Linked DNA regions of Homo sapiens: regions 2, 3, 4, 5, 6 and 7 are each linked to region 1. The links come from fine-mapping of genetic effects on gene expression. A gene starts in region 1. Each other region holds a variant in brackets. All regions are shown on one strand. Distances are between the middles of the regions.

Region 1 (4,626 bases):
TCCCCTTCCAGACAAATGCATATGTTCACAAAGACTTTCAGGGCATAAAGTATCCCCTTAAGGATGTGGCTGCTAGCCTCATCTTTGACACAGTGTCTTGAAATATTTGTTGAAGGAACAAATGATAAATAAATGAATGAATGCACATATAAAATATCCCTGTGAGGCTCTGTTTCTGAGTTGGTCAGAGATGTAGCCTGGTGAGGAGAAATGCTCAGAGCCAGACAACTGGCTCCTTCATTCTCCTGCCAAGGTCAGCCTTCAATAAAAAACAGCCCCGGCCAGGCGCAGTGGCTCATGCCTGTAATCCTAGCACTTTGGGAGGCGGAGGCAGGAGGATCACCTAAGGTTAGGAGTTTGGGATCAGCCTGGCCAACATGGTGAAACCCTATCTCTACTAAAAATACAAAAATTAGCCGGGCAGAGTGGCGGGCATCTGTAATCCCAGCCACTCTGGAGGCTGAGGCCGGAGAATTGCTTGAACCCGGGAGGCAGAGGTCGCAGTGAGCCGAGATCGCGCCATTGCACTCTAGCCTGGGCTGCAGAGCGAGACTCCATCTCAAAAAACAAAATAAAACAAAACAAAACAAAACAAACGAAAAAAAGCAGCCCCTAGGACCTCCAGTGGGGGTAGGGGCAGCTTCCAGCCTCTGAACCTAGGGTGAGAACTGTATCCCCAACATCAAGAATCAGTACTAGACTGCAGGGCAAGCCGACTGCTCCATAGCTGGAAAGTAACTCCAAGAGGACAAATCCTGAGTTGCCCTAGGCCACACCATTTCTACAGTGCTCCTGACATAGGTGCTCAATACACGCTGGTTGATGGAGCCAGCCAGTTCATGTGCCCAGCTGAAATGTATGTCCAGACACTGCATTGAAACTCTGCACTTCTCTTGGGTAATTGCACCCTTGTCAAGCATGCAAATCCTTTAAAAAGGATCCCCCTGCCAGAACCACCAAGATCTGGGCTTGTGTCTGTACAAATTCCTCGGGAACTGTCCCTGGCTGCAACAGGAAGGAAGGAGGCGCCAGAGTCTGGGGGTGCACACGTTTGTCCAGGAACCTTGATGGATTAGCAGAGGGAAAGCCAGACCAAGGGAGAAGCTTTGTCCAAATGTCTTGGTTACTCATTAGCCAAACCTCAGAGCTTCTCTCTGCAAGGGGGGATCAGAGGGGCAATTAACCCATTTGGAAGAAAGGTTAAGCTAAATAGCTCTCTAATCCTGCGGTTTCAAAAGATAGCAAGTAGGGTTTCTGGAATCTTTAGATACTGTAAGGCAAGCACAGGGGATGGGGCACGGGAAAGGAGAGGCCATAGACTGAGGGAGGCACTGATACTTATAGAGCCCCTACCTGTTTCATACCCTTCATTCCGATCCATCCTAGGCCAAGCCCATTTTGCCCAGAGGGTCCCCATCTGGATTCAGATAGGTTAAGTGTTTTGCCCAAGGTCACAAAAAAGGTGCAAAGAAAGTGTTTTTCTTTGTGCAACAGGTACAGTCCTTTCCCTTCCAAAAGATAATGGCTGCTCCTGGCTAGAGAAAGTTCAGTCCCGGCAGGCAGGAAGCCCTAGCCACCTAGGCGTCGCGCGGTGGAGGTCACACGCCTGCTCCGGGACTGGACAAACAGCAGGGTTTTAAGGCGCGGCGTCCCCACTCCCAGGCGAGTTTGTGCCAGCAGGGTGTGAAAAGGTCAGGCTCGGGTGGGGGTCAACGAGCCGCTTCCCATCCCGAGGGCCCCACCCGTGAGCCCGGGTGGGCCGCGCCGCCATCGGGGCGGGGACCACGCGGGCCTGCCTGGTAACAGGGGGACTGAGGCTTAATCCCATCAGGGCGCCTCCGCCCTGGGAAGACGAGCGGAGGGGGGGCGCAGGCCAGGCCGAGAGGACGTGTCCGGAGCCTCCGCGTCCGAGGGGCCCCGCGCGCCGCCCCTCTCACGCCCCCCGAACCACCGCGCTGTCCTCCGGGCTCCCCTCGACCAGGGTTCCGTCTCGCTCGCCGCCCTTGCTTCCCACTTCCACCTCCGGGGCCTCCAACCCGCACAAATGTCCAGACCCTAGCAGCTCCAGGCTGAGTAACCCAGATCTCCAGCGATCCCTCAGCTCCTAGCCACGGGATCTCTCTGAATCCATTCCCAAGGCTCAGGCTGGCATGGGAGGAGATTGATCCTCTCGCTCCCAGTCTCGAATCACCCTTCGCCGTCACCCCTGACTGGGGATCCAGTGGGACCCCAGGCCTCCAGCGCCCGATCCCCTCCAGGGATCGACTCCCAAGTCGCCAACCAGGTGGCACGTGATCCATTGGTTGCCCTGTGCGGGATCTTCCCGCGGGATCCACTCTCAAGTCTCGGGAGACGGATTCCCCGGCTCCCAAACCGGGATCCTCCCTCCCTGCAGACCCGGAGTCTGGGGAAATCCTCCGGCTCCCCGCCTCTTCCCCGGCCAACTTTGCCAACTTTTCTCCCGGGGCCTCGGCCGGGCAGAAACTTGGCGGCCCTCGCCAGCCGCCGTCACCCCCAGCTACCTCGTCGGCCGGGGACAGGAGGCGGCCAGCCGGCCCCCACTGCCCGCAGCCGCTGCGCAACCTACCGTGGAGCCACCGCCAGCCCGCGCCGCGCCGCCACCTGCCCGCAGCCCGCGGCACCTGCCCTGGGAGCCCGCAGCCCCGCGCAGCCTAGCCTGCTGGGGGCGGGGCCTCGAGCGGGGACGCGCCCCCGTCACCATGGGAACTGCCGCCGGCCGCGCCTGCGCGGAGGGGAGCAGAGCAGGCAGGACCCGAGTCCGCAGTGGCGCCTGGGCCTGGGACCTCTCCGGCGGGTCAGAGGTCACGACTCGCTTGGACACCCCTGCCGGAAGCGCTCCCGCCCCTCGAGGCCCGACCCCGCTCTGTCCAATTGGGAACTTTGCTCCGGGTACCCTCCCGCGTTCCCTGGATGTTCCCCAGTCACCAGCCAGGATCCCCCGCCACCGGCACCGACCCGCTGCCCAGCCGGCGACCCCGAGAGCCTAATGCAACCCAGGATTTCAGGAGGCGCTCCATAAATGTGGGCCCACTGACTTGCCTGGGCTGCTGGTGCCGGCCCGGGGGCGGGCAAGGTCTGTGCGCGGTGCTGGCGCCTCCTCGCGCCAAGCAAGGGCACTGCACCTGAGAGTTCGCTGGAGCGCCTACTGTGTGCGCATCCTCCTGCCATTATGTTGTGGGTGTGAGTTGTGGGGTAATGGGTACAGGAACTTGTGGACAAGTTGAGAGAATCGTAGGAAGTCGCCTCTGAAAGAGAAAATACCTGTTCTGTTATCCGTTACTCATTTCATTCAGCAGATCTTTATTAAGCACCTATTGCATGCTGGGTGCTGGAGAACCCAGTGGTGGGCAGCTGGCAAAATCCAGGCTGTTGTGCAGCTTACAGATATTCAAACAAATAATTTCACGAGTATATCAAATTGAATCTGTGACATGTGCTCCTATGGGAAATGTACAGAGCATGAATAACTGGAGGACCTAAAATCAATGTGCCTTTATTATAAGCAAGATAGACCTCAATAAAAAAAGAGAAAGAAAAGGACATCACAGGCTGCGCACGGTGGCTTGTAATCCCAGCATTTTGGGAGGCCGAGGCGGGTGGATCACCTGAGGTCATGAGTTTGAGACCAGCCTGGCCAACGTGGTGAAACCTCGTCACTACTAAAAATTACAAAAATTAGCTGGGCGTGGTGGCGGATGCCTGTGATCCCAGCTACTCGGGAGGCTAAGGCAGGAGAATGGCTTGAACCCGGGAGGTGGAGATTGCAGTGAGCCAAGAGCGCGCCACTGCACTCCAGCCTGGACGACAGAGCAAGACTCCATCTCAAAAAAAAAAAAAAGAAAAAGACATCACATTGTGTGGCTTCAGGAGGATTGGTGGGGAGACTTCTTGCCTCATTTTGCTCTTAAATTGTTGGGTGTGTGTAAGAAACAAGGGTAGCTCCTGTTCTCCACACCGTTTGCACTGCAACCCTTTTGAAGGTCTGATCATCACCATCAGACCCAGGCAGGGTAAACCCTGTTTACCAAACAGCAGCCCGAGAACCCCCAACTGACTTGTGTACAGTGCTGGAACCCAGGAATTGGGGGGCAGAGGTCCCATGAGGTCTCATGTCTCAAGACATTCTCCTTATCATCTGGGTATCTTGAGTACAGTCATCAAAAGGATCAAACCCAGTTGCTTTTACAGACAACTACCACTTCCAGAGAGAAGTCTGTGAGTAGGAGACCAGGAACGGCTGGGTTGAAACTTAAAATCCTTCAAAATCCACGTAAGTCAGGCCTTTACATGACGTGTATGTTATACCAGCAAAGGAAAATCGTTGATTGTCTGCTCTTCTCTCTAGACCTCCTGGAGGAAGGGACTTCTGTCTGTCTTTCACCTCCGATTCCCAGTGCCTAGAACAGGGCTTGGCACACAATAGGTGCTCAAAGAATGTATGCTGAGTGCATGAATGACCAACAGCTGATGACATGCCATCTGCTGCCCCTCCTCCCTAACCTTATGGGAACTTCCTGTCTCTCCTGGGCAAATCTCCATGAACCAGAATGCGTAGGCTGGGGGTTCTGTTCAATGGAATGTTCCATGTTTCTCAGCTCCCCAGCC
Region 2 (4,626 bases), 200 kb before region 1:
AGGCTGCAAAATGATGCCTGTGGTAGAGACATGCTGTCTCCATGGGACAAGCGTTACCCAAAGTGACAGGAACACAAGTTTGCAGCTGGTCTGCAGGAGGCGTATTTGGTTTCCCGGCTGGGAGTGCCTGACAAAGCTCTGAGTGGGGGCTTCCTTGGAGGCTATAAACACAAACAACAGCTGGGCTGGGAGGCCCAGGCTCCTGTCGGCCTCAGAGGCAGGGTTCCCCTAGACCCAAGAAGCCCAGTGGGCACCCTAGAGCCTGCGCTGTGGGTGTCAGAGGTAGGCAGGGAGGCAATAAGAATAGTAACAGCCACAAACACCTAAGAAGCGCCAACTGCATGCCTGGCACCATGTCAAATTCCTTATGTAGACCATCAAGTTTAATTCCCATAATAGATACTGTTAATATCCCCATTTCACAGATAAGTGAGCTGAAGTTCTGACACATTAAATAGTAACAATAGCAGACACTTGGATGGTGCTTACTGCATGCTGGGCCGTGACATTTAGTCCTCCCAACAATCCGAGAAATCAGGTACTGTTACTATCCCCACTTTCTGCATGAGAAGACCGAGGCACAGAGAGGAAGGAGCTCCATTCAAACCCAGGTGGCTGGGCTTCAAGTTAGTGGCCTGCGATTCCCCACTCTACCAACGCCCACTGCAGTTTTACCCAGGAAGTACTCCTTGGTCCAGTGTGTCGGCTGCTGGCAGTATGGCCCGGGGTCTGTTTGGAATGTGTCCCTAAAATGCGGCCCAGGCATCCACTCCCCCAGGAAGCCTCTCCTGGCTGGCCCCATCCCCAGGTGGGTTCTTAGGACCCCCATAGAACCCCCTGTGCTCACCCCATCATAGAAATTATTGGGCTGGGCTGTGATTATCGTTTGACTGTGTTCTCTAAACTGTAAGCTCCCTGAGGTCAGGAACTGGGGTCTGTTCGCCCTCAAATGCCAGTGACAAGTTCAGAGACAGCCACAGTGGACAGGAAGCAAGTGAAGATGGATGGATGGATGGAGTGAATGAACCCATAAATGACTCCCTGTCCCCTCTCTAATGTCAGAATGACACTGCTATTTACCCAGACCCTCTTGATATATCACAGGACCATCTGCTTTTATATATGTCCTTAAAATTTAATTCTTGTTGCTTTTTAAAACAAATTGTTTTTTATAAAACACTATGTGGGCTGGGCATGGTGGCTCACGCCTGTAATCCCAGGACTTTGGGAGGCCGAGGCAGGCGGATCACAAGGTCAGGAGATCAAGACCATCCTGCCTGACACAGTGAAACCCCATCTCTAGTAAAAATACAAAAAATTAGCCGGGCGTGGTGGTGGGTACCTGTAGTCCCAGCTACTCGGGAGGCTGAGGCAGGAGAAAGGCATGAACCTGGGAGGTGGAGGTTGCAGTAAGCTGAGATCGTGCCACTGCACTCCAGCCTGGGCAACAGAGGGAGACTCCATCTGAATAAAAAAAAAAATAAAAAGAACAGGAAAAAAAAAAAACTATGTGCAGTGTGCTGACAGTGAAACTGGGGTGGCCTGTGTGATACATTTAGGTGCAAAATAGGAGAGACTGATCCTGAGGGAGAAGAAAAATGCCCAAAATAATCAGGGGAGAGGGGAGGGGCACAGAACATTCTAGAAGTACTGTGGCACTCTTGCATGGAGATAGACAAATTTGATGTTCTTTTTAACTCAGAATTTCTGTTAATATAAGCTCTACAGTTCTAAGGTTACGATGAGTCAAGGGAAAAGAGAATCTGGAGTTTTAAAAAATGTATTTAACCTAAAGTATAGAACAATTATAATGTAGAACTCTATTTAATTGTTAGAAAGAATAGTTAAAAAGAATGAGGCAGACATAAGTTTACTGACATGGAACGACCTCCAAGATTCACTGTCTAGTGAGTAAAGCAAGGTGCAAAGTAACAGGTGGCAGACCCTGCCATTCGTGAGGGGGAAAAAAGTAAAGACCAAAACGCACAGAATACCTAAGGACACAAGAAAACTGCAATCATACTTGTCTCTAGGAGAGGAATTGCGTGACTAGAGGACGAGGAGAGATGACTTTTTTTTATTCTACCTCTTTTTGTATTTTGTAACATTTGTGGCTAGTGATATAAAAAGTACATTTTGAAAATGTATAATTATATGTAAGTATATAATTCTTTTACGTTTCCCAGCATCTCCTTTTAATGGAATCTGCTCCCACTGATCCCAACTTGGCTCCTCTTGGAGGGATTCTTAAAACAGACTAAGCCCAATTTGACTTCTTTTTTTGAAACATCACATGTCAAAA[CA/A]TCTCTCTCACAGTTTATTTCAGGCTAGGGCTCAACTTGTCAGGTGACAGAACTGCAGCCTTGCAGCGTACGTGTAAACCTGTTGAGGAGGCAGGGCGCTGGGTGTGTCTCCCTATTGACTGAGGACCCCAAATCCTCCAGCCCAAGGCCTGGTCTCTCTCTCCCTGCCAGAACACTGCCACCAACTCAGCTGTGTTCTATGGGAATGATGACATTCCAATGTCACAAAGTGGCTTGACCATCCCTGCTACTGGAAGTCCATCCAGCAGACAGATGCACGCACACACAGATCCACACATACATGTATATACACACAAATGTATATACACAAAACACATACACATAGATGCAGACATACATGAGTATATACACAAACACATATACACAAAACACATACACAAACACATGCAGATGCACACATATATGTATATATACACACATGCAAAGACACAAAAACACATACGGATGTACACATACACATATATACACACAAATACATATAAACACAACACATGCACACACACACAAATGCACACAAACATGTACACAAAACACAAACACATATGCACACATATACACACAAACACATATACACATGAAAATATAAACACACACAAATGCATACACACAAATACACACATATATGCACACAATTACATATACATAAAAAGCACATACAGGCCAGGCACGGTGGCTCATGCCTGTAATCCCAGCACTTTGGGAAGCCGAGGAGGGCGGATCACGAGGTCAGGAGATCAAGACTATCCTGGCTAACACGGTGAAACCCCATCTCTACTAAAAAAATACAAAAATATTAGCCAGGCATGGTGGCGGGTGCCTGTAGTCCCAGCTACTCGGGAGGCTGAGGCAGGAGAATGGCATGAACCTAGGAGGTGAGAGCTTGCAGTGAGCCGAGATCACGCCACTGCACTCCAGCCTGGGTGCCACAGCAAGACTCCATCTCAAAAAAAAAAAAAAAAAAAAAAAAAAAGCACATACACACATACATGCACAAAAAAGATACACACAAATACACACATACATATATATGTGTGTATTTATATATATTTATATAAATATATATACACAAAAAAACTATATACATACACATACACAAATACAAGTACAGGTGCATACATACAAATACACACATATACAGGCAAATGCATAGACACAGAAAAAATATACATAAACACACATATATACAAATACACACAAGCACAGGTACATAAATACAAATACACACATAGGTATATACACATGCAAATGCACATACACAAAAATATACACATAACCACATGTATAAACACACAGATATGCATACACACATACACAATACTTACATATGCACACACAAATGCATATACACAAAAAACACTTTCACACAAACACAAATATACACAAGCACATACACATGCACAAATGTACACACACAAACATCTACACCAATGCACACACATACACAAAAAATAGACAACACAAAAACACATATAAATACATGCACCCAATACACACACACACACAGCTGCATACACACAAATATACACAAATGCATACCTACAAAAACCCCCCCACACACACATACACAAATACATAGAAACAGACACAAATACACATACACACAAAACATATATAATACACACACAAATGCACACACAAATGAATGGTCCCAGCAGCACTGTTTTTGGTAACAGCAAACACACAACCCAACTGCCCTTCCACAAGAGCACCTGATACCTAAACTATAGCTTATCAGTGCAAGGGAATTAACATGGTGTCTCCATTCAAAACAATGACTGCCTCTTCAGAAGGTAGAAATTGAAGGGCTGATGTGGAAAGATGCTAAAATTATTATGAATAGGTTTAAAAAGAGCAAGGGGCAGAAAATGCCATCTCAAATTGAGGTCCGCTGATTAATCAAAGTTTCCTATCCCAAGTATCCAAGGTCCCCTGGGCCTCAGACAGAGTGGGGGAGAGGGCGCAGAAGGCCTGAGTGGCAGGTGACAGAGGGCTCTGAGGAGGGTGTGACAAGACAGGTGGGGATATCAGGGAAGGCAAAGCAGCCAGAAGGAACAGCCTGGGGAAGTTAAGCATCGTATCTATTAAGAGCCTACTATTTTGTGTGCCTGGACAGCCCCCTCTCATCTGCCCTGCAGAGCAGCCTTGCATGGCTGGCCTGGCAGAGCTGGGGCCTATAGGAAGCTCAGCATGAATGGAGTCTCTCTTCCTCTGGAGTTGGGGACCTCGCAGTGGGGCTGAGGGGGTGCCTGGAACCTCAGGCTGTCAACCAGCAAGGAGAGTCCTTTGTTGATGAACACCCCAC
Region 3 (4,626 bases), 100 kb before region 1:
TTGGGAGGCCAAGGTGGGAGGAACACTTGAGTTCAGGAGTTCGAGACCAACCTGGGCAATATGGCAAAACCCCGTCTCTACCAAAAATACAAAAAAAAAAAAAAAAATTAGCTGGGCATGGTGGCACATGCCTGTAGTCCCAGGTACTTGGGAAGCTGAGGTGGGAGGATGGTTTGAACTCACGAGGTGTTGCAGTGAGCCGAGATCATGCCACCGGCACTATAGCCTGGGCAACAGAGCCAGATCCTGTCTGTCTGTTTGCCTGTCTCTCTCTCTATATCTGTATCTGTATCTATATCTATCTATATCTATATCTATATCTATATCTATCTATATCTATCTATATATATGTTTGTGTGTATGTATTCCTACAACTCAACAACAAAGAAAAAACAATCTGATTCAAAAATGGGCAAAGGACTTGAACGGACATTTCTGCCAAAAAGATATACAACTGGTCATTTGGCATATGAACAGATACTCAAAATCATTAGTCATTAGGGAAATGAAAATAAATATCTCAATGAGCTACCATGGCTAATTTTTAAATTTTTATTTATTCATTGTTTTAGAGACAGGGGTCTCACTATGTTCAGCCCAGGCTGGTCTGGAACTCCTGGCCTCAAGCAATCCTCCTATCTTGGCTTCCTGAGTCACTGGATGACAGGCATGAGCCACGGCGCCCAGCCCACAACTTGTTTTTTCAGTCACAACCTTTGATGAGTTACTTTCAGCAGTCCTTGTGTGGTCTTTCATTTTGATTGTTTCCTTCTCATTTGGACTCGCTGTCAACCAACTGAAATCTAGAGGGAATCTCTAACTAGCAGCCAGGATATGTTCTTGGGCGGGGGCCACCTCACAAGTTCCCACTTATTTCAAGTTGATTACACTCACAAGGACTACCACTGCTGTCAGCAGAATCCAAATGTTCCTCCCCTCCTTTTTCCAGTCTTAATAACAAAGTCATCAGGTCCAAATGCTCTCAAACCTCTCAACCTTTGCCCTGGCAGATCCTGCGTACAAAGATGCTGGCATGACGATGACACAGCACCAGCCTCAGAAGCAAAGGGCCACAGTTTCACCAGTTAGAGATGTGGGAAAGTCTGAGCTCAGTGTAAAACCAAACACTGCGGGTGTCCAGGAGGGTCACGTGGAAGTCAAGTTTAAAGGACCCCAGATGACATCCGTTGTATAGAGCACAATTTCACGCCTCTAAACCTCTGCCCATGCTGTTCCCTCGATCAGGGGCAAACCACTGTTCCCCAGACCATAGTTACCTGGCAAACACCTGCTCAGCCTTCAAGACTTAGAACTCAGACTCTTTGGTCTCGAACTCCTGCTTCTCAGCTAGCCCTCCCCAAGTGGAGACACCCCCTCCCTCCTCCAGGGAGACTTTACACAAATTCAAATTAAATTAAAGCACATGACATGATGCCTGGCATATAGTAAATGTTCAATAAACAGTAGCTATTAGGGAGCTTCCGGATACCTGAACACAGGGAGGTTCCTGGAGGGTGGCGTGCCCAGGGAGGGCATGGAAGCTCTGCACTCCCTCCCCCATACCTCACCCTACGCATCTCTGCTTCTACAGCTTATCTTTTGTAATAAACTGGCAAACGAAGAGGAAGAGAGACCAGAGACATCTACCTATCACCCACCTCCCACCCTGCATACACAGAAGAGGCTACGCAAAGACAAATGAAGGACACAGCTGTCAGCCACGGAGAGGAGCCTCATTAGAAGCCAGCCTTGCTAGCTCCTTCATCTTGGACTTCTAGCCTGTGTATCTGTGAGAAAGCAAATTTCTGTTGTTTAAGAAAAAAAAAGAAAATTAGCTATTAGAACCCACTGCAATTATTTACCTACCTTCTTTTTTTTTGAGATGGAGTCTCACTCTGTTACCCACGCTGGAGTGCAGTGGCGAAAACTCAGCTCACTAAAACCTCCGCCTCCCGAGTTCAAGCGATTTTCCTGCCTCAGCCTCCTGAGTAGCTGGGATCAAGTGATTCTCCTGCCCCTCAGCTTCCTGAGTAGCTGAGATTACAGGCACGCAACACCACGCCAGTCTAATTCTTCTTTTTTTTTTTTTTTTTTTTGTATTTTAGTAGAAACAGGGTTTCACCATGTTGCCCAGGCTGGTCTCGAACTCCTGAGCTCAGGCGAATCGCCTGCCTAGGCCTCCCCAACTGCTGGAATTATAGGCGTGAGCCACTGTGCCTGGCCTATTTACCTACCTTCTTAATTGTCTATGCCTTAGTCATAACTGTAGCCCACTGCCCAGCATAGCACTTACCACATGCAGATAAATATTTGTCAAAAAAAGGAGCAAAAT[C/T]CCTAAACACTCTACCTCAGCCCAACTGGTCCTCCAAGCACCCCCCTTTGTCTGTGTGAGTTCTCAGTCCCAAATGTCTCCCCTCCTACTTCCTGCACCTAACTGGACCCTCCCAGGTCATTTTCAGACCCCTGGGCTGTGAACTCCAGGAGGCTGACGGAGAAAATCTCCAGGCCCCATCATGCAGGGCCTGGCGCATAGTAGGCCCAAAAAGAAATAAACTCAAGAACCAAATGAGCCAGCATATGCTAACCAATAGGTTTCAGGGATTGGGAGAAAATTCTAGAGACTACCAGAGGCCCTCCCGCTGGCCCATTGCAAGGAAGCCTCCCAGCTGATGAATCTCTGACTTCATCGTCACAAGATGGGCCTCCAGGGTAAACTGTGACTCGAGGTCACAGTCCACAACTGAGTCACTGTGTTTTATGGTCCCTGTGAAAATGCAGACCAAAGCTCACTTCCTGGGGAAAAGAGGAGAGGGAGGAAGCCTGATACAGGACTTGGATTCGCCATGTGGACTCGAGGTCCTGAGGGGAACCCTGAAAGTAACAAGGGAGATGGGGAGAAACAGAGAGCACTGGCCAAGGAGTCACAAAGAAGAACTCCAGCCCCAGCTCTGCCTCTAGAGGCCACAGGACCATACACAAGACACTTCCCTACACTGGGCCTGTCTCCTCAACTGCAGAAAAACTTCTAAGGCTATGGATGTTTGTCTTTCCCATCAGCTCTTTGGGAGAGCATAGAAAAAAAACCTGGCCGCAAATAATAATAAAATAATAATAAGCCGGGTGCAGTGGCTCACACCTGTCATCTCAGCACTTTGGGAAACCAAGGCTGGCGGAAAACTTGAGGTCAGGTGTTTGAGACCAGCCTGGCCAACATGGCAAAACCTATCTCTACTGAAAATACAAAAATCAGCCTGGTGTGGTGGTGCACGCCTGTAGTCCCAGCTACTCAGCAGGCTGAGGCACGAGAATCACTTGAACCCGGGAGGCAGAGGCTGCAGTGAATCGAGATTATGCCACTGCACTCCAGCCTGGGCGGCAGAGTGAGACTCCATCTCAAATAATAATAATAATAATAGCTGCTATGATTTGTGAAGCCATTTCTCGGTGTCAGGCACTGTGCTAAGAGCTTTGTAAGCATCATCTCATTTGGGCTCTGTCCTCCCACCGGGCTACCACGTAAGACGAGTGGAAAGTTCAGCAGACACTTAAGAGCATGGACTGCAGACCCAGAACTTGGAAGAGACACTTAATGGCTCTGAGCCTCAGTTTGCCCATCTGTGAAGTGGAAATAATAGCAGTATCTACATGACATGTAACGATAGTAAGTGTTAGGCTTTGTTATTGCTATCACTATCCACTTTATAGAGGAGGAAAAGTGAGGCCCTGAGTGGTAAACTCACTTGCTCAAGGCCTCTAGCAAGTGGCAGGGTCTGTAGTTCAGCAACCATGGGCAGGGCTATGCAAATCAGCAGGGCATTGGCCTGGCAGGTCCCAGGCACCCTCTGCAAGACAGCAGCAGCACAGCAGCTGATGGCCAACCCCGGGCTGAGCAAATATCACATTCTCAGCTCCAGGAGGAGTCCCAGGGCTCAGGGTGTCTTGTTTCCTCATGTAGCTAATGCACGGAGTGCTGCAGGCCCAGGAGAGAGAGGAGCTGGCAGGGGCTGGCAGGGGTTGGCCATAGGCCAAAAGCACAGGCCCATGGCGGGAAGGGCCTGGGGCCAAGGCTGGAGTGAGATAGGCCCCGTTTCCATTCCAGCTCCCCCAGCAGCTGTGTGGCCTTGGGCAAGGGGCTGAAGCATTCTGAGCCTCACTTTCCTGCTCTGCAAAATAGGATTCATGGTCACTAACATGAGGCTGAAGTAGGAATTGGCAAGGCCTGAGAGGCTCAAAAAATGAAGATGAACATGAACTTAAATGGGAAAATAACAGCACAAAGTCATTCATCAAAGCAGTGATGGGAATCATAGCAGACACAGTGAATCCCTTCAAACACCTCATGAGACACAAAATGCATGTATGACCAATTTCCAGAGGAGCAGGGACAGCCACCAGGGGCTCAGGACCCCAGCCCTCCTCTGCTGGGTCACCCTGGTTAAGTCAGGTCCTCTCTCCTGGCTTCACTTTCCCCTTTTATAAAAAGAGAATTGGACAGGTGAGAAAAAAAGCAGAGGAGAGGAAGGGGAGGAGGAGGATGAGAAAGGGAAGGGAAAGTAGAAGAGATGGAAAGGATCAGGAAAGGAGGAAGGGAAGAGGGAGAAAGAAGCAAAAGCTACCACTGCAGTT
Region 4 (4,626 bases), 140 kb before region 1:
GGCCTGCTTGCCTCCCACCTGCTGAGGGGCCTTGGACAGACCTGGGCCTGTGTCCTCTCAGCCAACAAGGAGGGGTTGCCATGATGATCTATAAGGGCCCTTCAGGTCTCCATCCCGGATTCATTCACTCCACAAAGCCACCCTGGGGGTCTGCATGTACCACCCGCAGCACAACACGCCAGTCCCTCTGGAGGGAGCTCTGGAGGGCTCCAAGCTCTGGGCAAATGACCCACACCTGCATTTAAACTGGGCCTCCCTGCTCCCGTTTAACCACCATTCATCCCAAGTCTCAAGAAGGCAACAGAAAATGCCCTGTTTGGAGCTTTGACAGAAAAACTCCTCTCTCAAGAAGGTCTGAGTTGATGGTTCGCTTTCTTCGAAAACAAGAACGATGCTTTAAGTTGGGAGCAGCCTTCGTGTTTGGATGTGGACACCTATACAGTCCTCAGGGTGGCCCCATATATCTCTCTGTCCTCCCTCCCTTCTTTAACCCAAAGTGAGAAGTCCTGGGAGGCAAGGCGGGGGCTGGCAAAGTGCCTGCAAACCAGCATCACTGTCAGGAGCAGAAGCAGAAGCAGAAGCAGAAGGGAGAGAGAGAGAGAGAGAGAGAGAGAGAGAGAGAGAGAGAGAGAGAGACAGACAGAGAGAGAAAGAGAGAGAGACAGAGAGAGAGAGAGAGAGAGAGAGAGAGAGAGAGAGAGAGAGACAGAGAGAGAGAGAGAGAGAGAGAGAGAGAGTGTGTGTGTGTGTGTGTGTGTGTGTGTGTGTGTGTGTGTGTGTGTGTGTGTGTGTCGGGGGGCAGGGAAGATCCCGGTACCTCTCCATTCTTACTCAAACAACTGATTTTCAGGGTATAATAATAACTGCCTCCCCGCTCCCCACCAAGTGTTCTCATTTCAAAATGGACTTAATGAGATCCCTTGGAGGAAGGACTTCTCCAAGCAATTGAACACACTGTGCAGTAATGAACTGCCAGCAGTGAGTGTCACTTAATGGAAACCAAGTGGACAGAAACAGGTCAGGGGAGGGAGTGGCTGTCCCTTAGGCACCTATTGTGCCTGAGCACAGTGCTAGGCACTCTATAGGGGTTGCCATCCATTATTTTATGGCATTCCACTAACAGCCCTGCAAGGTCTTGTCTCTCCTCTTGAAAGATGAGAAATCTGAGCCTCTGATCTGGTTCCTAGGCTGTGAAGCATAGCTAGGCTGCCTGCTCAAAACTGGCCCCTCCACCAATGCGCTGTGGACTTCAGACAAGTTACTGCACCTCTGAGTTTCAGTCTCCTCATCTGTAAATGGGGATAACAATAGCGATTGCTTTGTAGGGTTTGTGTGAGGGTTGTGTGAGACACTGCCTAGAGATTACCTAGCACACAGTAAGTGCTCAATGAACATAGTCACTTGCCGGCTGGACTTAAACCCAGGAACCTGTCTGCTTCCAAAACTCAGTAAATTCTCTTTCCACTAATCTGCAACTCCCCCATCCATACTCAGCTGGTGACCTTGAGCTCACCCTCCCTGTTCCCTGCATCTGGGAGGCCACCCTGACTCCCTCCAGTGCAGGGGGCCGAGGGGCCACACTCACAGCCCAGGCCAGCCTCTCCTCTTGTGCTCTGATGCCATCTCTTCCCACCAACTCGCAACAGCTCCCCTGCATCTAAAGCTGCTCCCTCCACACTCTTTTCCCTGTTGCAGTAAAATTTGGCACCACTCGCCTGTTATTCGGGCCAGACACTGGGGACCCTCCGTAGTTCCTCTTCTCCCCAGATCTTCCAATCCATTCCCATGGCTTGAATTTGAAACTACAGCCTGAACCCGATCACTTCTCCTTGCTTCCCATCCCACCCCAGCACTGGACCCAAGTCCCCACTGCCACTGGCCTCCCTGCTTTACCTCCTGCCCCTCCAGTCCACTCCCCACACATCAGCCTGGCTGGGCTTGACAGTTCTCCATCCTACGAGGTTAGCCTCCACCAAAAATGCTCCCTCATCTCTCCACTACAGCCAGAATAAACTCTACATATTCTGCCCTGGCCCACAAGGCTCCCACTTGCTTCCCCTACTTGCTCAATGGAAGGCTGGCAATATTGGCCTTACTATGCCTCAACCTGTCTCAGCTTGTTCCCAATGCAGGGCCTTTGCACGTGCTGTTCCCTCTGCCTGCAGCCTCCTTCCCCACATCCCTGCGTGGCTGGCTCCTTCCCTCAGGGCTCCACCCAAATTTTATTCCAGTCACGCTTCCTCCCAGTCTCATCACCTGTTTTATTGTCACATCATTCTGTTTCCTTGTCTTCATGCATTTATCTGTATTTGGAATTATTTATCTTTCATATATATTAGCTGTCTCTCCCACTAGAACACACACTCAGCCAGGGCAGGAATTGTTTTTCGTATTCCCCTCTGATGCTTGGTGACTATAACAGCGTCGGGCACAGAGAAAAGACTCAATAC[G/A]TATTTGTTGAGTGGATAAACAAAGGAGTAAATGAATGACCAAATAAACTAAAGGATGAATAAATGAACACACACACAAGCCAAACTCTATGGGGCTGTACTTGTCCATCTCTACAACAGAGGTGGTAACCCCAACACCCACAAGACGGTGATGAAGATGAACCCTGATGAACCAGAGCCTAGGAGATGCTCAATAAATCCTTGCTGGTTGAAGCATTTCAGTCAGCGGGGGCTCAGCAGCGGGCATCTCCTCTCAACCCCTTACTGAATAAAATGCATTTAATAGTCAAAATCCTGTAACGGAGATACAGCAATTGAAGGCCCAAGGAAGAACGCATGTGAGAACATGATTCACTGTATTACCCGTAGCCATGGCAACTGAAATCTTCAAGCGCAGTTCCGCCTCGCTTTAGTTTTCTATGCAGAAATTTCTAAAGGAAATGTTCAGATTTCTATCTCTGCTGATATAGAATAGGCATTCTCATTTGGCTTGGAGAGGAAAAATGCAAAATACCAGATTCCCATAAGGTAAACTGGTTTACGAAGAAAGAAGAGTTTTGTTTTTGGCAGCGTGAGTTCAATTCTGAGAGGTAGAACAAAATCATCTTCATCATCATCACCATCATCAACAAACAAACAACACCTTTGCTTGAAATAGAATGGACCAGGCCAGGTACGGTGGCTCATGCCTGTAATCCCAGCATTTTGGGAGGCCAAGGTGGGTGGATCACCTGAGGTTAGGAGTTCGAGACCAGCCTGGCCAACATGGTGAAACCCCATCTCTACTAAAAATACAAAAATTAGCCAGACATGGTGGTGGGCGCCTGTAATTCCAGCTACTCGGGAGGCTGAGGCAGGAGAATCGCTTGAACATGGGAGGCAAAGGTTGCAGTGAGCCAAAATCACGCCACTGTACTCCAGCCTGGGTGACAGAGCAAGACTCCATCTCAAAAAAAAATGGACTAGTACTTTATCTAACCTTCACTCATTCACGCAGTCATTTAAGAAGAGTTCACTGATTGCCTACTGTGTTCCAGGCCCTGTGCTAGACTCCAGGGATACAGCAGTGAACCAAGACAGATGAGGATCCCTGCCCTTGTGGAGCCTGCAGTCCAATAGGACAGATGTCCAATGGAAGAACATTCACAGCATGGAATTCCCAATAAGGAATAGTGGAGAGAAACACAGTAGAACAGAAAGACAGCCCTGTGGGATAACAGAGCCACCATCCATTGGTTTTGTGACCTTGGGCAAGTCACTACACATGTCTGAGCCTGTGATAAAATGATGATAACAATATTGCTTGATGAAGGTGCTACGTGTACCCAATGAGATGACAGAAAAAGTGCCTTGTGTGGTGTCTGATATGCAGCAAGCACCCAGTAACTAGTCATTCTTCTTGCCTTACAGAGGCAGAAGGGGCCAGCCCCTGGCTGTTTCTCTCGACAAGGCCTCAGAAAAGTTCTCCGAGTGTGGGGTTTTCCCAAAGGACTGCCTATGTTCTAAAGGACTGAGGGAGTCTGGGAGACATTTGAGATTTCAACTTTCAAAATAAATGTGCAGGAAAGGCCAGGGAAGAGGAAACAGATTAACCTAACAGCTACCCAGATAACAAATGAGGCCAGAGTCCTGAACATGTTTAGGGTGGGGTCCCAGCTAAATTCTCCAAAATATGAGGATGGAGGATGCTGAGAACAGCCTGCCATTGTGGGCTTCTCACCACACCGGCCACGTGCAGGGTGAGACTGGAACTTCAGGGACTGACGAAAGAAATTACGGTCTCTCGACCGGCATAGCAGTAGAGCTAAGGGCTCCAGAGCTCAGCACACTCCAGTGCAAACCCTGAGGCCTGACAGCAAGAAAAGCCTGGTGGGCCAGAGACTTCTTCTAAGGAGCTGCCCGCACTCCCTGGATCCTCACAGATGGAGTGAAACCCTGGCAGAGGTGGGGGCATTTGAGCATCAGGCTGGAGCCCAGGAGCCAGGAGGCAGACAGCAGACCTGGTTTATGTCTGACAGCGCACCACCCTCTTCTCAGCTTCTAGCCTCTGTACCTACACACGCCGTTCTTTATGCCTGAGCATAGCTCCATCACCCCTGCCAGTCCCAGCCCACCTAGAAAACCCCTGTTCAATCTTTAGATGACCCAGAAAGGCCACGGCCAGGCATTTCTCCTG
Region 5 (4,329 bases), 120 kb before region 1:
CTGCCCCTAGGAGGCTGAGGGCATTACTGCCCAGCCTCTACTGGCCAGGATGAGCTTAGGCCAGTACCTGGAATGTACCATGGGCATGCCATGGGCTCTTGCTCTTTCTGACATCCACCCCAGCCCTTTGCACATGCTGTTCCCTCTGCCTGGCACACACTTCCCTGGACCCCTACCCTAGCATCAACTGCCAGCTCCTAGGCATCCTCCAGCACTCAGCTTCCTTGGGGAGGCTCTCCTGGCCCCTGCACCCCAACGAGACCATATCCCTTGAGGCACTGTGCACCACCCCCATCCTAACACATACATGGTCCTTGTTTCAGTTCCTTGAGCAAAGTCCAAATTCTCACCAGACTAAGTTCCATGCGGTCAGGGGACCATGCCGTCTTGCTCCTATATTCCAAGTATCTGGCGCTAGCTCCAAACTACTGCTGGTAAGTGTGTGCTGAATGAACATGAGATCGTAGCCATTTGTCAATGAGTTCAACACCTATGCCAAGCTCTAAGTTCTGGGGACCGTGGACTGTATCTTAGTCATCTCTGCATCTCCAGCATGGAGCCCAGAGCCCAACACGCAGCCAGGCACATCAAGGTTATCCAGACCTTGCAAACCACACAATTCAAAAATACGATTATTGGAGACTTCTTTTCTTCTTTGTGCCTGTCTGAATTTTCCATATCTTTTTACCATGCACATGCATTATTTTTGTAATTAAAACATCAATCAATCAATCAATCAATGTTGCCTTACATTTATTATATAAGAATGTTCATAGGCCAATGATTGAACAATATGGACTGGGGGGATCTCCTGTTTCCCCACTGCTCTGGGGGGCTCAGGAGGGAGGTGAGACACTCTGGGACTGGCGGCTAAAAGGCAATGTTTCCTAAAGTTGTATTTTTAGGAGCGCTGGAAAATTCTCTGGGCAAGAAGGCATCTGAAGTATTTGCAAACACTCAGCAATGGGAAAGATAATATTTCCTAAGACTTTCCCTTTTGGGTGTGCTGAAACCAGTGGCAAATATTCTGGAAAACTCTGAGACCAGCCCATGACAATTCTTCGGTAAGTCCCTCTATTCCCAGAGCCCTGATGGATGTCACACAACCCAGAATCACCTACACCCACTCCTTATTTCACAGAGGAGGAAACAGAAACCCAGAGAGGAGAAGTAACTTGCCCAGGCACAGAAAACAGACCAGTTGCGAAGTCAAAGTGAGACCTGAAAGCATTTTATACCTCACAAAGCACTTCTGCACAGCTTCCCTGACTTTGGCATTTCATCAGAAAATGTTCTGGTTTTTTTCCTCTGTTATCCAGAGGAGACAGCACAGTGTGAGTGTTAGTGGGGAAGGGGTCCCAACTTCTTCTATCACTGTGTAGGTTCAGGAAAAGGAAAGCAAAATCTATTATTTTCATCCCATAGAAGACAGACATTCTTACACACACAGAGGCAAGAGGGATGTAATTTCAGAATAAAGAATAGTCCTTTAAATCAAATAAATGTTGCTTTCTGAAAAACTCACTGAAGTGGTTCTCGTTCTTCCTGTTTTCTTGAGGACTGGAGGAAAGCCCACATCGGATCCAGGATCTTCATTCCTGTTCAGGAGTCTCAGCTCTTCCTACAAACCTGTGCTACCTCCCAAACCAAGCCCGTTTCCTTTTTCCCCAACATTCTCTCTTCCTTGTAACCTCCACCATTTCTTAAAGAAAACAGAGACATTGCTAACCAGACACAGCCAAAAAGCAAAGTTGACAGGAAGCAGGAGGAGAGGGAAAGGACGTGACCCCGTCCTGGAGCCTGCACTGCCCCCCGCCACTCACCCAGAGGTAGCGCAAGAGCTTCAGCAGGCTGGGGCAGTAGTAATACTCCATTTCCAGCACCCAGAGGTTATGTGGTGAGCACAGTACGGTTTCCAGCTTTCCTCTAGCGGGAGCGGCTCTTCTCACTCCTGTCACGCTGGAGTCAAGTTCAAGGCGGCATAAATCATTCAGAAGCCGGCTCACGGCCAGGGGACCAGCCAGTCGGCTCCACTAATGGCCACGGCTGCCTGGGGAACTGAGAAGCCACCACTCGGTCCTATGAGCCCCGCCCGGGGCATCTCTGGCTTCTCGTCCAGTGGGGCGGGTCCAGG[G/C]GTGGATCCTTCTGAACCCAGCTGCCTGGACCCTCACCCTCCCGGGAGCCGTAGGCACGGAGGGTTTTAGGGTTTTCAGTTGTACGGCAAGAAGGCAAGAAGAGAGAAGGTGATGCCCGGGAACTGAATGTGTGCACGCGTGTGTGTGTGTGTTTATGCATGAAGGAGTGTGTGTGTACATGCTTTTACGTGGAGTCAAGTATGTGTGCATGTGTGCATACGAGTGTGTTTTGTGCATGTGTGGACTGACTGTGTGCTGTGCGTGTGAGCCCAAATGTATGTGGTTCCTCCTCCCCAAACCACATGAGGAGAAGGAGGCCCTGCCACTCGTTACAGGGAAGGAAATCAACTCAGGATCCCATTGGTTTACCGGGCTCCTTTGATGTCAGTCATGTTCCTTTTAAACTCAGCTAAGCTTCTGATCCCCCCAGAAGGAGGGTGTGGCCATCCCCATTTTACAGAGAGGAAAACCGAGGCCCAGAGAAGTCAAGGGACTTGGCCAAGGTCACGCGGTGAGTTGGTAGCTAAAGCAAGGCTGGAACCCAGGCCTCCCAGCCATGATTCCTGGGCCCGTCCACTCCTGTGGACACCCAGCCCAGCATGGGGAGTGGGGTGCTGGCAAAGGGAGGGATCAGCTCCCTGAGGCACCAGCTGCCAGCTGCACCAGGTGGGGAGTGAGGAGAATGTCAATTTTCAGAGATTAAAATGCAATAAAAGCACACCTCGGGCAAATCCAAGGCAAACTTTCCCAGATGTTTCCTTCAAAAGAGCATGATTTTAGCAAGTCACCTCATCCTCCTGAGCCTCAGTTACCCCTTCTGTAAAATGCGACAAATTATCCCTGTGTTCAGGGCTTTGAGGATTCAACAAGGTAGAATCCTGCCAAACCATCTAGTTTAGTTTTCATGGTCATATCATGAGGGCAGTATCATCACTTCTACTGTCCAGATGAGGAAACCAAAACTCACAGGGTCAAAAGAGGTTCCTGAGGTGAGCAGCAGCTAAACAGTGAGACAGGGATTCAAATACAAGCCAGACGCTCCTGGATCCCCTACTCAACACCTGCTCCTCATAAGCCGAGGCCATAACCCAGAGACTCCGGCAAGTGAGCGCCGGATGCAAGACAGCTGTGCTTCTGAGGCAAGGTCCTTCTCACTGCTGAGAGGGGAAAACTGAGGCGGGGGAGGTGTTCACAGAGGCACCAGGCAGAGGCCCTGGGTTCTGCACCAGGCTCCCGCCCCCAGGCTGGAGCTTGGCACACTGACTGCCCCAGCAACATCCTGGGCCCATCTGTGCTGCATCCTTCAGCCTCACCACTGGACACCAGGCAGAGCATCTAACAGGAAACTCACTTAAATAAGGAGAGGGTGGGCTGGGCACGGTGGCTCACGCCTGTAATCCCAGAACTTTGGGAGGCCAAGGTGGGCAGATCATGAGGTCAGGAGATCGAGACCATCCTGGCTAACACGGTGAAACCCCGTCTCTACTAAAAATATAAAAAATTAGCCGGCCGCGGAGGCGGGCGCCTGTAGTCCCAGCTACTCGGGAGGCTGAGGCAGGAGAATGGCGTGAACCCGGTAGGCGGAGCTTGCAGTGAGCCGAGATCGTGCCACTGCACTCCAGCCTGGGTGACAGAGTGAGGCTCTGTCTCAAAAAAAAAAACAACAAAAAAACAAAAAACAAGGAGAGGGTGCTGGGTGCAGCAGCTGAGAAAACCACGGGGTAGCTTCAAAGCTCTTCAGAGGCAGGCCTGTGGTTTCATTGATTCTCAGCGCCCCACTCCCAGCAGGCACTGGGTCTCAGCTGCTCGCTGCCTGACAAGTCAGGGGTTGGCCCCAGCGATGGCAGAGCCAGGGACTGGCAGCACAGTCAGAAGGCCGGCCCTGCTCCCTGATGGCACAGTCGGAAGGCTGGCCCTGCTCCCTGACGGCACAGTCGGAAGGCCGGCCCTGCTCCCTAACTGCCAGACAGTACAGCTGAAAAGCCAGCCCTGCTCACCAGCTGACAGTACCAGTCAGAGGACAGCCCCAGCTGACAGCATAGCCAGAGCACTGGGTCCTGCTGACCGACAAAAGTGCAGCAAAAGGGCTGGTTCCTCTGCACTGGCGGCACCGCTGGAGGGATGATGCCAGCTGCCTGGCTGTACCCCTGGCGCTGCGTGTCCTGGCTGACTGGCTGATGAGTGTCAAGTCTGG
Region 6 (4,626 bases), 230 kb before region 1:
CCTCAGTTTCCCCATCGGTCTGGAGAGGGCTAAACTAGATCAGTAGTTCTCCAGCAATGGTGCCCTGGCGTTCCATGTAGCAGGTGGCAGTGGGCGGGGAAGAGGAGAGGCCAGCTGGCCTGATTCCTGGCCTCCTTCCCCGGCCTCTGTTGTACTTTTTAGGTATCTGAGTATTGAGAATTCTCATGAACAAAGCTTCTGCTGCTAGAGAAAATTAAAAAGTTGTAACTCTCTTCTATTCAGCTCTAAAACCTATGCGAGCACCTCTCTAGAAGTATAGCCTGAGTTTGGAAGGAGAGGGACCCCCATTCCCCAAGACCCCTCACCTCTCATCCTTGTCCATGCTGGAAGGCAGCACGCGACTGCCCAGCACCCCAGGCTGGAAGGGGGACTTGGGGCTCTTGGGTTGGGGTGCCCAGCTGGGGGTCTCGCCAGGACTGTCCACCTCTGGCCTCTTGTGCAGCTGAGCCTGGGGAGAAAAGAGAGCTGAGTCTATAAGCTGCCCTTTGTCTGGGGAAGGGCCCCCTCCCATGCAAATGTCAGGTACAATGAGCCTTCTGCAAACACTCGGGGCCCCCTGAATCGGAATAAACCCAGACAGGAAACATGGGGGCTGAGAAAAGTCAGATGTCAGTCTGGCATTCCAAGCAGCCACCCTCGACCCCCAAGATCGAATCACCACCCAAACCCCACATAATCACATTCTCTTTTGCTGAAAAGCCACCATTTGTAGTGTGCTCAGCACACGGCATGCCACCCTGAGAACTCTACATGGAGAGAGCAGCTCCCTCCATCCAACAGCTGCAGCTTAGCTCCGTTCAGTTCCTTACTCCTGGAGCCATGTAAATAAAATGAAGTTTTCGACAGTCTATTAGAGTCCCATAAGAAAACCGGAGGGCAAATATCCACCCATTTTTGGAGGGCATGTTGGGAATGGAATACAATGGTGTGCATAAAGTTCCCTTGCGGGACCTGAGGTGTGAGTGGTGGCAAGTGGCTTCTCTCTCCCAGGCCGTGTTGGGTCAGCCCCCAGCAACAGCAGTCATTACCATTGTCCACTGATAGCTTCTGTGCACTGATCACCCATCACTTTTGCTCTACCAGGCTCAAGAAATATGACAAATGTGAGTTCGTTCCATGTGTGTATGATTCTTTTAGGGCAGATCCTGGCTTTCCCCATTTTACAGGGCGAGAGAGCCCAAAGCTCAAAGGTCTAGCCCGAAGTCACACAGCTTTTATGAACTGGGATTCACACCGGGTCTGCCCGCAGCCCAACTCCAGGGTTCTTTCCAGGACAAGCCCTGCAACCTCCCCTGGTTGTTAATAATCGCCTAGCACTGCTGTGGTAGAGATTGAAGTTTAAGCTAACACTGATGAATGAATGGCCAGAGCCCCGTTTTCACAGAGCACAGTGGACTGGAGCTGTGTTCTGGAATCCCAAGATCTGCCTCAGCAGTTACTCGGTGCATCCACATGGGAGCCCCAGGGCCTCCATCTCACCTACACCCAGGGCCTGTGGCTGTCTGCCTCCTGCGTTAGGCTACCTTATAAGATCATTTGCTTTGTGGCAAGAAAGAAAATGAGGGAAGGAAGGAAGGAAGGATGGGAGGGAGGGAGGGAGGAAGGCCAGATGCGGTGGCTCACGCCTGTAATCCCAGCACTTTGGGAGGCCGAGGCAGGCGGATCAGGAGGTCAGGAGATTGAGACCATCCTTACTAACATGGTGAAACCCCGTTTCTACTAAAAATACAAAAAATTAGCCAGGCATGGTGGCCGGCGCCTGTAGTCCCAGCTACTCGGGAGGCTGAGGCAGGAGAATCGCTTGAACCCGGGAGGCGGAGCTTGCAGTGGATCACACCACTGC[A/C]CTCTAGCCTGGGTGACAGAGAGACTGTCTCAAAAAACAAAAAAAGAAGAAGGAAGGAAGGAAGGAGAGAACAAGGAAGGAAGGAAGGAAGGAGAAAGAGAAAGGAAGGAAGGAAGAGAGGGAGGGAGGGAGGGAGGGAGGGAGGGAGGGAGGGAAAGAAAGTCAGAAAACCTCTAACCTAGTTCTAGTGACTGAAAGATGTTCACACTGTAAGGGCCTGTAAAATCAATTACAGACACAAGCACGCATCCACTACTGACTGATTTTCTATTCGTGGAAGAAATGACAGAAAAGCAAAACTTCCGTCTACTAAAGGAGCAACAGAGTCACGGCGCTCCCACATGGGGATTGTGTGGCCTGCATGGCATACACAGAGTTGAGAAATTCCACCAACAATTCAGGCTTGTCTGCCTTCATTTCTTCTTCAATAAAAGGGGAACGAAGAGCTACCTTTTGCAAGGTTGCTGGAGCATAAAGTGAGTTTGCAAGCACATGATGTCTGAAACAGGGGGGCAAAAGGGCCTCTTTCCTCACCCAAATTAAGTGCCATTTGGTTCCAGGACTATGAGAGACACTTGTGAGAGCTGGACGTGGGGAGGAGGGAGGCAGCTCAGCCTTTCCCTCAGCATTGCATAATACAGTTGGCATTCTGGTGCAATTTGGGAGACTGGGACTTGGTTCCAGCACTGGCTTCCTGTGTCATCTGGTACTGAAATGATCATTTTCTGTGCCTGCCTTCCACAGCAGACCGGATTCCTCAAGGGCTTCAGGAGCCTGGGTTTGTTCACTCCTGCTTCCCTGATGTTCAGCACTGGTGAGCGTCACCAGTTGGATTCTCAGCCCACTTTACAGATAAGCAAACCAAGGCTTAGCTATGACACCAGAGCAGCAGGTTTGGGGGCGGAGGAGAGTCAGAAAGTGGAGATTAAGCAACACAGGGCCACTGGTGAAAGCCAAGTAAGTTGGTAGTATTGTTAATGGTAGAAGCCAATTTCCTAATTTTGCCAATGTGCTATGGTCATGTGAAATACTATCATGTGGGTGAAGCTGAGTGAAGGGTATGGAGAAACTCCCTGAGTTATTTTTGCAACTCCGTTTGAAACTTAAACTATTTCAAAAATGGAAGGAATGAAGGAAGGAGAAGGAAGGAAAAAAAGAAGGATAAAAAAGGATGGACAAAAAAGGAAGGAAGGAAGAAAAGAGAAAGGGAGGGAGGAAAGAAAGAAGAGAAAGGGAGGGAGGAAAGAAAGAAGAGAAAAGGAAGGAGAAAGGGAGGGAGGAAAGAGAAAGAGGTAGGAAGGGAGGGAGGAAGAAGGGACAAAAGGAAGGAGGAAGACAGGGAGGGAGGAAGAAAGGAAGGAAGGACGGAAGGAAGGAATATGTTTGTTTTTTGTTTTTTTTTTGAGATGGAGTCCCGCTCTGTCGCCCAGGCTGGAGTGCCGTGGCGCAATCTCGGCTTACTGCAAGCTCCGCCTCCCAGGTTCAAGCCATTCTCCTGCCTCAGCCTCCCAGGTAGCTGGGACTACAGGCGCCCGCCACCACGCCCGGCTAATTTTTTTCTATTTTTTAGTAGAGACGGGGTTTCACCATGTTATCCAGGATGGTCTCGATCTCCTGATCTCGTGATCCGCCCAACTCGGCCTCCCAAAGTGCTGGGATTACAGGCGTGAGCCACTGCACCCAGCCGGAATCTATTCTTTACACTGCTAAGGTTGAGGATCATGCCCACCAGGTGACTCTTGGTGAGAGGTCTGGTACCTTTAGCACTGCCGGATCCATGCCTGGAAACGCAGGCATCCTCTGAGGATGGCTGACAGGGGTCCTCTCAGCTTTGGATGCCGTCTCCTCCTCATCCGACTCCTCCTTCCTGGGTGATTTCTCCTCTGTTGCAAAGAAAAGGGCACTGAATTCATCAGCAGCTGCCATGTATTGAGGTCCTACATGCCAGATAATTTGCACACAGTATCTCATGCAATGCTCACATCAGACCTGCACAGAAGACGCTATGGCCCATTTTACAGATGAGGACCACCAAGGTGCCTGCTTTCATGCTCTCTCTTCTCACAACTCTGCTTCTTGCCAGAAGATACTGACAACAGGCAGAGTAGGTTTTCTTTTGCGGGAGGACAGAGGCAAACCCATCTCCTGGGCCCTTGGCTCATTCCAAGTCAGGGAATAGAAGGAAATCTTTGGCAGAGGCAGGAAAGTAGATAGGAATGCTTTCAGCCAACAATGCACCGAGGTTATGCTCTCAGAGGAGAATGTGGAGAGCTTCATGTGTCTTGTGGAAAGGCGGCCCAAAGGTGGACCAGGAAGCCATTTTCCTTGACCCCAACTCCCCTATCCAGGACTTAACCCCAGACCCGTGCTTGAGGCTGAGCTGATCACTCAAGCTTTTGGGTGATGGGCTGCCTATCCCACTCTTCCAGGAGTGATATGGGAGGAGTTTCTACTTCTCTGAGACCAGGATGCTGGCATGGGCACAGTGAGGATTGGAGGAGGGGGCGGGGATGAAAGAGGCAAGACCTGGTGCTCTGGAGCCCTTGGGCTACCCGAGGAACTGAGGTACGCTAAGAAAACACAGACCCAGCCTTCCCCATCCAGCCCCTGGCCGGCTCCTCCAGGCTGATGGGAGCCAGAGGTGCTGCTGCCACGTTCCAGCTGGGGGTATTTGTGTGCTTTTGTCCCTATTATGGTCTTCATTTGCTCCAGGTGGCTTAATAGAACTTGGCTCAGAAAACCAAGAAAGTGCAGAGAGGTCT
Region 7 (4,329 bases), 120 kb before region 1:
CTGCAAGGCCCGGCATGGTCACCTCCCTGCTCTCACTGCCCACTCTCTCCTCTCACCCAGTCTGCTGCAGCCACCGTGGCATCCCTCCTGTTCTGCAAATGTGCCTGTGCATGCTTGGGCCTTAAAGCCTTTGCACTGACTATTCCTGTTTCCCCCCAAGCTCCCCTGGCCTATGCTCTCCCTGCTTCTAAAGTCTCTGTTCAAATGTCACCTTTTTAGAGAGGCAGAGGCCCCACACACCCAAGCCCTCCAGAACCTTCTTACCTGGTTCCTTCTGTCTTTCCCCAGCACAGCCCACCTCCTGACATACTATACAACGTTCTTACACATACCCATTGTTGATTGCCTGAACACCCCACTAGAATGTTAATTCTGGCCGGGCCCCTATAATCACAGGTCCTCAGGAGGCGGAGGCAGGGGAATCATTTGAACCCAGGAGGCGGAGGTTGCAGTGAGCCGAGATGGTGCCATTGCACTCCAGCCTGGGCGACAGAGCGAGACTCCATCTCAAAAAAAAAAAAAAGTTAGTCCCTGGGGCAGGAAACATGGCTGTCTTGTGCACTGATGTATCCCAAACCTTTAGAACAGGGCCTGGTGCATGCAACTGAACTGAACTGAGGACACATCAGGTGCCTAGCACCAGCATCGGCTGCCACCACTTATTCAGCACCTACTGTATGCCTGGCTTTGTTTGCATCGCCTCACTGAGTCCTCAGGCCAACCCACGAGGAAGTTGCTATCAATATTTCTACTCTATAGATGGCAAAACTGAGTTTCTGGGAGGGCTAAGAGATTTGCTCGAGGCCCCATGCTCTATTAATAAGTGGCCCAGTAGGGAATAGAAGCCAGGAGAGACTGACTCCAAGCCCGTTTTTGCCTCCATGACTGGGTCTAAAAAGGCGCCCACAGCTCAAGTCAGATGAAAATCTCTCATGATGCAAACTGTTCCATGGCCCAAACCTCAGGCCCAACTCAAACAGCACAAAAATAGTCAGTTCTTCTATTTCAGCCACAGACATTGCTGAGACAAAGCCAAACCAGACCCTTGGCACAAACTGAAGCCACTATGATCTGAGATTCAGAAGCTGGTAACAGTAATTGCTTACGGTGTGCGTATGGAGTGCCAGGCACTACGATAAGGCCATTTGTCCCCACAATAGCTTTCAACATGTCAGGTCAACAGGGTGGTCCATCAGCCCACATCTATTTTTATTTTTTACTTCTTTTTGAGACAGGGTCTTGCTCTGTCTCCCAGGCTGGGAAGCAGTGGTACAATCCTAGCTTACTGCAGCCTCGAACTCTTGGGCTCAGGTGATCCTTCTGCCTCAGCCTGCTGAGTATTTGAGATTATAGGCGTACACCATTATACTTGGCTATTCAAAAAAAAATTCTTTTGTAGAGACTGAGTATTGCTGTGTTACCCAAGCTGGTCTCAAATTCCTGGGCTCAAGCAATCCTCCCGCTTTGATCTCACAGAGTCTTGGGATTACAGGCGTGAACCACTGCACCTGGCCAGCCCACATCTATTAAGCACCTATTATGTGCCAGGCACTGGGCCAAGGGCTGAGAGTTCAGTGGTAAACACACAAGCAACCTCCCTGCCTGACAGAGACTGCATGTAGTCATCAAATTAGCTTTGGAGTCAGATTTCCAAGTTCAAATCCCAGCTCTGCCCCTGGCCAGCTGTTGCATATCTGGTGGTTACTCAGCCTCTCAGAATCTCAGTTTTCTCTTCGGTAAAATAATAATAAAATCCACCCCTCAGGGCTATTTGTGAGGATTAATCAAGATCCCACACACTGAGGCACTTAGCGTCAAAGAGGATAATATCTTTTGCTGTTTCATGACTATTATTATTACTACTGTCACCTAGAGGTGATTACACGCTGAGTGAGGGCCACAGCCAAATGAACAAGTAGCAAGAGGGTCTGGGGAGAAAACAGTGGAACTAACCACATTTAGATTTTTTCCATTCAAAAATCTGGTCACAGAGTCAAACGTGGGGACATGAAGCTTAGAAACACAATGAAAACCACAGTGATTTCCCATCTCCAGGGAGAC[C/T]AAGGCATGGAACACGGACCCTGCAGGAGGATCTTAAAAGGGCAGGTGAGGGATCTGCACCTTCCCCAAGAAGCTATCAGAAGCCCCAGCTGGGGTGTCACGCCCCACGGGCCACTCAGCAGTTCCTCACTACACTGAAAGCAGCCACCTCTGCCATGGGAGGCTGGAGTAGAGGAAGCCTGCGAGAGTCAGCCTCACAGACCCTGGGCGGGGCTGGAGAGGCAGCTGGGAAGAGCATGGGACAGGAGGTGGGGGTCCCTGCCATTATATCAGAGCCCTCCCCAGCTCCCAACAAACACCATCTCCATATTAAATGCCCACTCTAAGTCCAGCCCTGTGCCAAGGACACTAATGCCCCTTATTCTTAGCTAATCCTCAGCACAGTTCCTCCAAGGTGGGGCTGACCACTGCCACTTATAGAGAGGGAAACTGATGCCCACAGCCATGATGTGATTTACCAAAAGCCACACACCCAGTAGAGACAGGGCCAGGATTCTAGGCCAGGGTTCTCCCTCCAGAGCCCCGCCTCGCCTAGTGCCACATTCTTCTGTCATCCTCCTCGTTGCAAAGCTTGATATGCATAGAAAGCTTTCCTGTAGGCTGGGAAGTTGCTTCAACACCATGGGCCTCAGTTTCCCCATCTGAGAAACCAGAAGATCAGACTCCACGAAGTAGTAAAAATAATAGAGGGAGAGCTGGGTTCAAATACAGGCTCTAGCACTTCCTAGCCGGGGACCTTGGAGGAGATACCTAGCCTTTCAAGGCCTCAGTTTCCCTAATTGCAAAATGCAGGTAATAATGAGATCAACCCATTGGGGTTCTTATAAGGATATAATGAGACCCCTCTGAAAGGCGTTTAGTACAGGCTCAGGATTTTGTGAGCACTCAGTAGGAGTGGTGGTGGTGATGGTGACTTTTATCATCATATGACTATTGCTTATATCACTAATTACTACTGCTGTAATTGATAACCCCAAGAGAGCAGCTTGATGCCCCTAGCAAGGCCACAGGCCTTGGGACCGTCTGGCGAGGTTATCTCAGCAACAAAGGAGATTAAATAACTCACAACAGCCACACCAGAGGCTGTAGCCCTCAGCTATTCTTACTAATAGTTTGAAAGAGAAACTTAATCTCTCTCCCCATGCCCCAACTGTTGCTGGACCAGCACCAAGCTTGATGGTGATAGTGGTTTCTCCCCCCAGAAGAGAAGTGCAGCTATGAGAAGGACTCAGGCTGCCAACAGGAAGCTAAAAACATCCCACCACCAAGTGACAACTTTGCAGAAAACCTGTTGCAGCCCACGCTTGGCCCCACTTCTAAGAAGCTGACACAGGAGACAGCTCGAAATGTGAATCAAGATTTAAGGCGGGGAACAATTATGCATACAATAAACACCTGGGAATAACCTAAGTTTCCAACCACAAAGAATTGGCTACTAGATTCACCAATCCCTCTTCTGGGTATATATCCAAAGTAAATGAAACCAGTACCCCATAAACCAAGGCTGACAACAGGTAGGAATATTAAGCAGCTATTAAATATCATGGTTACAAACTTTTTAAATAACATGGCAGATTTTTTTATGCTGCCAGTGGACACACAAAAAGATAAGGACTGACAGGCTGGGTGCAGTGGCTCACGCCTGTAATCCCAGCATTTTGGGAGGCCAAGGCGGGTGGATCACCTGAGGTCAGGAGTTCGAGACGAGCCTGGCTAACACAGTGAAACCCCATCTCTACTAAAAATACAAAAATTAGCCGGGCATGGTGGCAGGCGCCTGTAATCCCAGCTACTCGGGAGGCTGAGGCAGGAGAATCGCTTGAACCCGGGAGGAGGAGGTTGCAGTGAGTCGAGATCGCGCCACTGCACTCCAGCCTGGGAACAAGAGTGAGACTTTGTCTCAAAAAAAAAAAAAAAGATGCGCACTGATGACTGGGTGCAGTGCTCACGCCTGTAATCCTGGCACTTTGGGAGATAGAGACCATCCTGGCTAACACGGTGAAACCCCATCTCTACTAAAAATAAAAATACAAAAAATTAGCTGGGTGTGGTAGCACGTGCCTGTAGTCCCAGCTACTTGGGAGGCTGAGGCAGGAGAATCGCTTGAACCCAGGAGGCAGAGGTTGCAGTGAGCCGAGATCACGCCACTGCACTCCAGCCTGGGTGACAGAGACTCCATCTCAAAAAAAAAAAGATGCGCACTGATTCACTCATTCAGCTGGCAGTGATGAGGCCCTACTAGGGATGAAACTAAAAGCGAAAAAATAC

Alleles and levels. Positions count from the first base shown, and alleles are read on the strand shown. Sizes are in standard deviations (SD) of each study's normalised expression. Not every link is listed here.
With allele A in place of CA in region 2, the expression in esophagus muscle of the gene that starts at base 2,644 in region 1 is lower (moderate effect, 0.55 SD a copy in GTEx).

Evidence for each region. PIP is the estimated chance that this variant, and not a neighbour inherited with it, causes the effect.
Region 2: its variant is fine-mapped to the expression of KIAA1671 in esophagus muscle (GTEx, PIP above 0.99). The same link has a PIP of 0.9 or more in gastroesophageal junction.
Region 3: its variant is fine-mapped to the expression of KIAA1671 in thyroid (GTEx, PIP above 0.99).
Region 4: its variant is fine-mapped to the expression of KIAA1671 in whole blood (INTERVAL, PIP above 0.99).
Region 5: its variant is fine-mapped to the expression of KIAA1671 in blood mononuclear cells (TOPMed, PIP above 0.99). The same link has a PIP of 0.9 or more in whole blood.
Region 6: its variant is fine-mapped to the expression of KIAA1671 in whole blood (INTERVAL, PIP above 0.99).
Region 7: its variant is fine-mapped to the expression of KIAA1671 in whole blood (TOPMed, PIP 0.99).

What each region holds. Positions count from the first base shown.
Region 1 is chr22:24,950,734-24,955,359 of GRCh38, reverse strand. It overlaps KIAA1671, which reads right to left and starts at 2,644. Exons shown (of 13, transcript NM_001145206.2): 1 at 2,588-2,644. RefSeq lists a silencer at 2,578-2,827.
Region 2 is chr22:25,154,681-25,159,306 of GRCh38, reverse strand. All of the region lies in intron 6 of KIAA1671, which reads right to left. Among named protein-coding and RNA genes, the nearest start is that of CRYBB3, 43 kb to the left of the region's middle. The variant CA/A (reference allele first, on the strand shown) is at 2,303.
Region 3 is chr22:25,051,504-25,056,129 of GRCh38, reverse strand. All of the region lies in intron 6 of KIAA1671, which reads right to left. Among named protein-coding and RNA genes, the nearest start is that of KIAA1671-AS1, 59 kb to the left of the region's middle. The variant C/T (reference allele first, on the strand shown) is at 2,333.
Region 4 is chr22:25,089,849-25,094,474 of GRCh38, reverse strand. The region is part of intron 6 of KIAA1671; the gene reads right to left. Among named protein-coding and RNA genes, the nearest start is that of KIAA1671-AS1, 21 kb to the left of the region's middle. The variant G/A (reference allele first, on the strand shown) is at 2,451.
Region 5 is chr22:25,067,911-25,072,239 of GRCh38, reverse strand. The region is part of intron 6 of KIAA1671; the gene reads right to left. Among named protein-coding and RNA genes, the nearest start is that of KIAA1671-AS1, 43 kb to the left of the region's middle. RefSeq lists an enhancer at 2,067-2,617. The variant G/C (reference allele first, on the strand shown) is at 2,135.
Region 6 is chr22:25,180,820-25,185,445 of GRCh38, reverse strand. KIAA1671 reads right to left here. Exons shown (of 13, transcript NM_001145206.2): 10 at 3,623-3,747; 11 at 327-469. Among named protein-coding and RNA genes, the nearest start is that of CRYBB3, 17 kb to the left of the region's middle. The variant A/C (reference allele first, on the strand shown) is at 1,865.
Region 7 is chr22:25,075,428-25,079,756 of GRCh38, reverse strand. The region is part of intron 6 of KIAA1671; the gene reads right to left. Among named protein-coding and RNA genes, the nearest start is that of KIAA1671-AS1, 35 kb to the left of the region's middle. The variant C/T (reference allele first, on the strand shown) is at 2,062.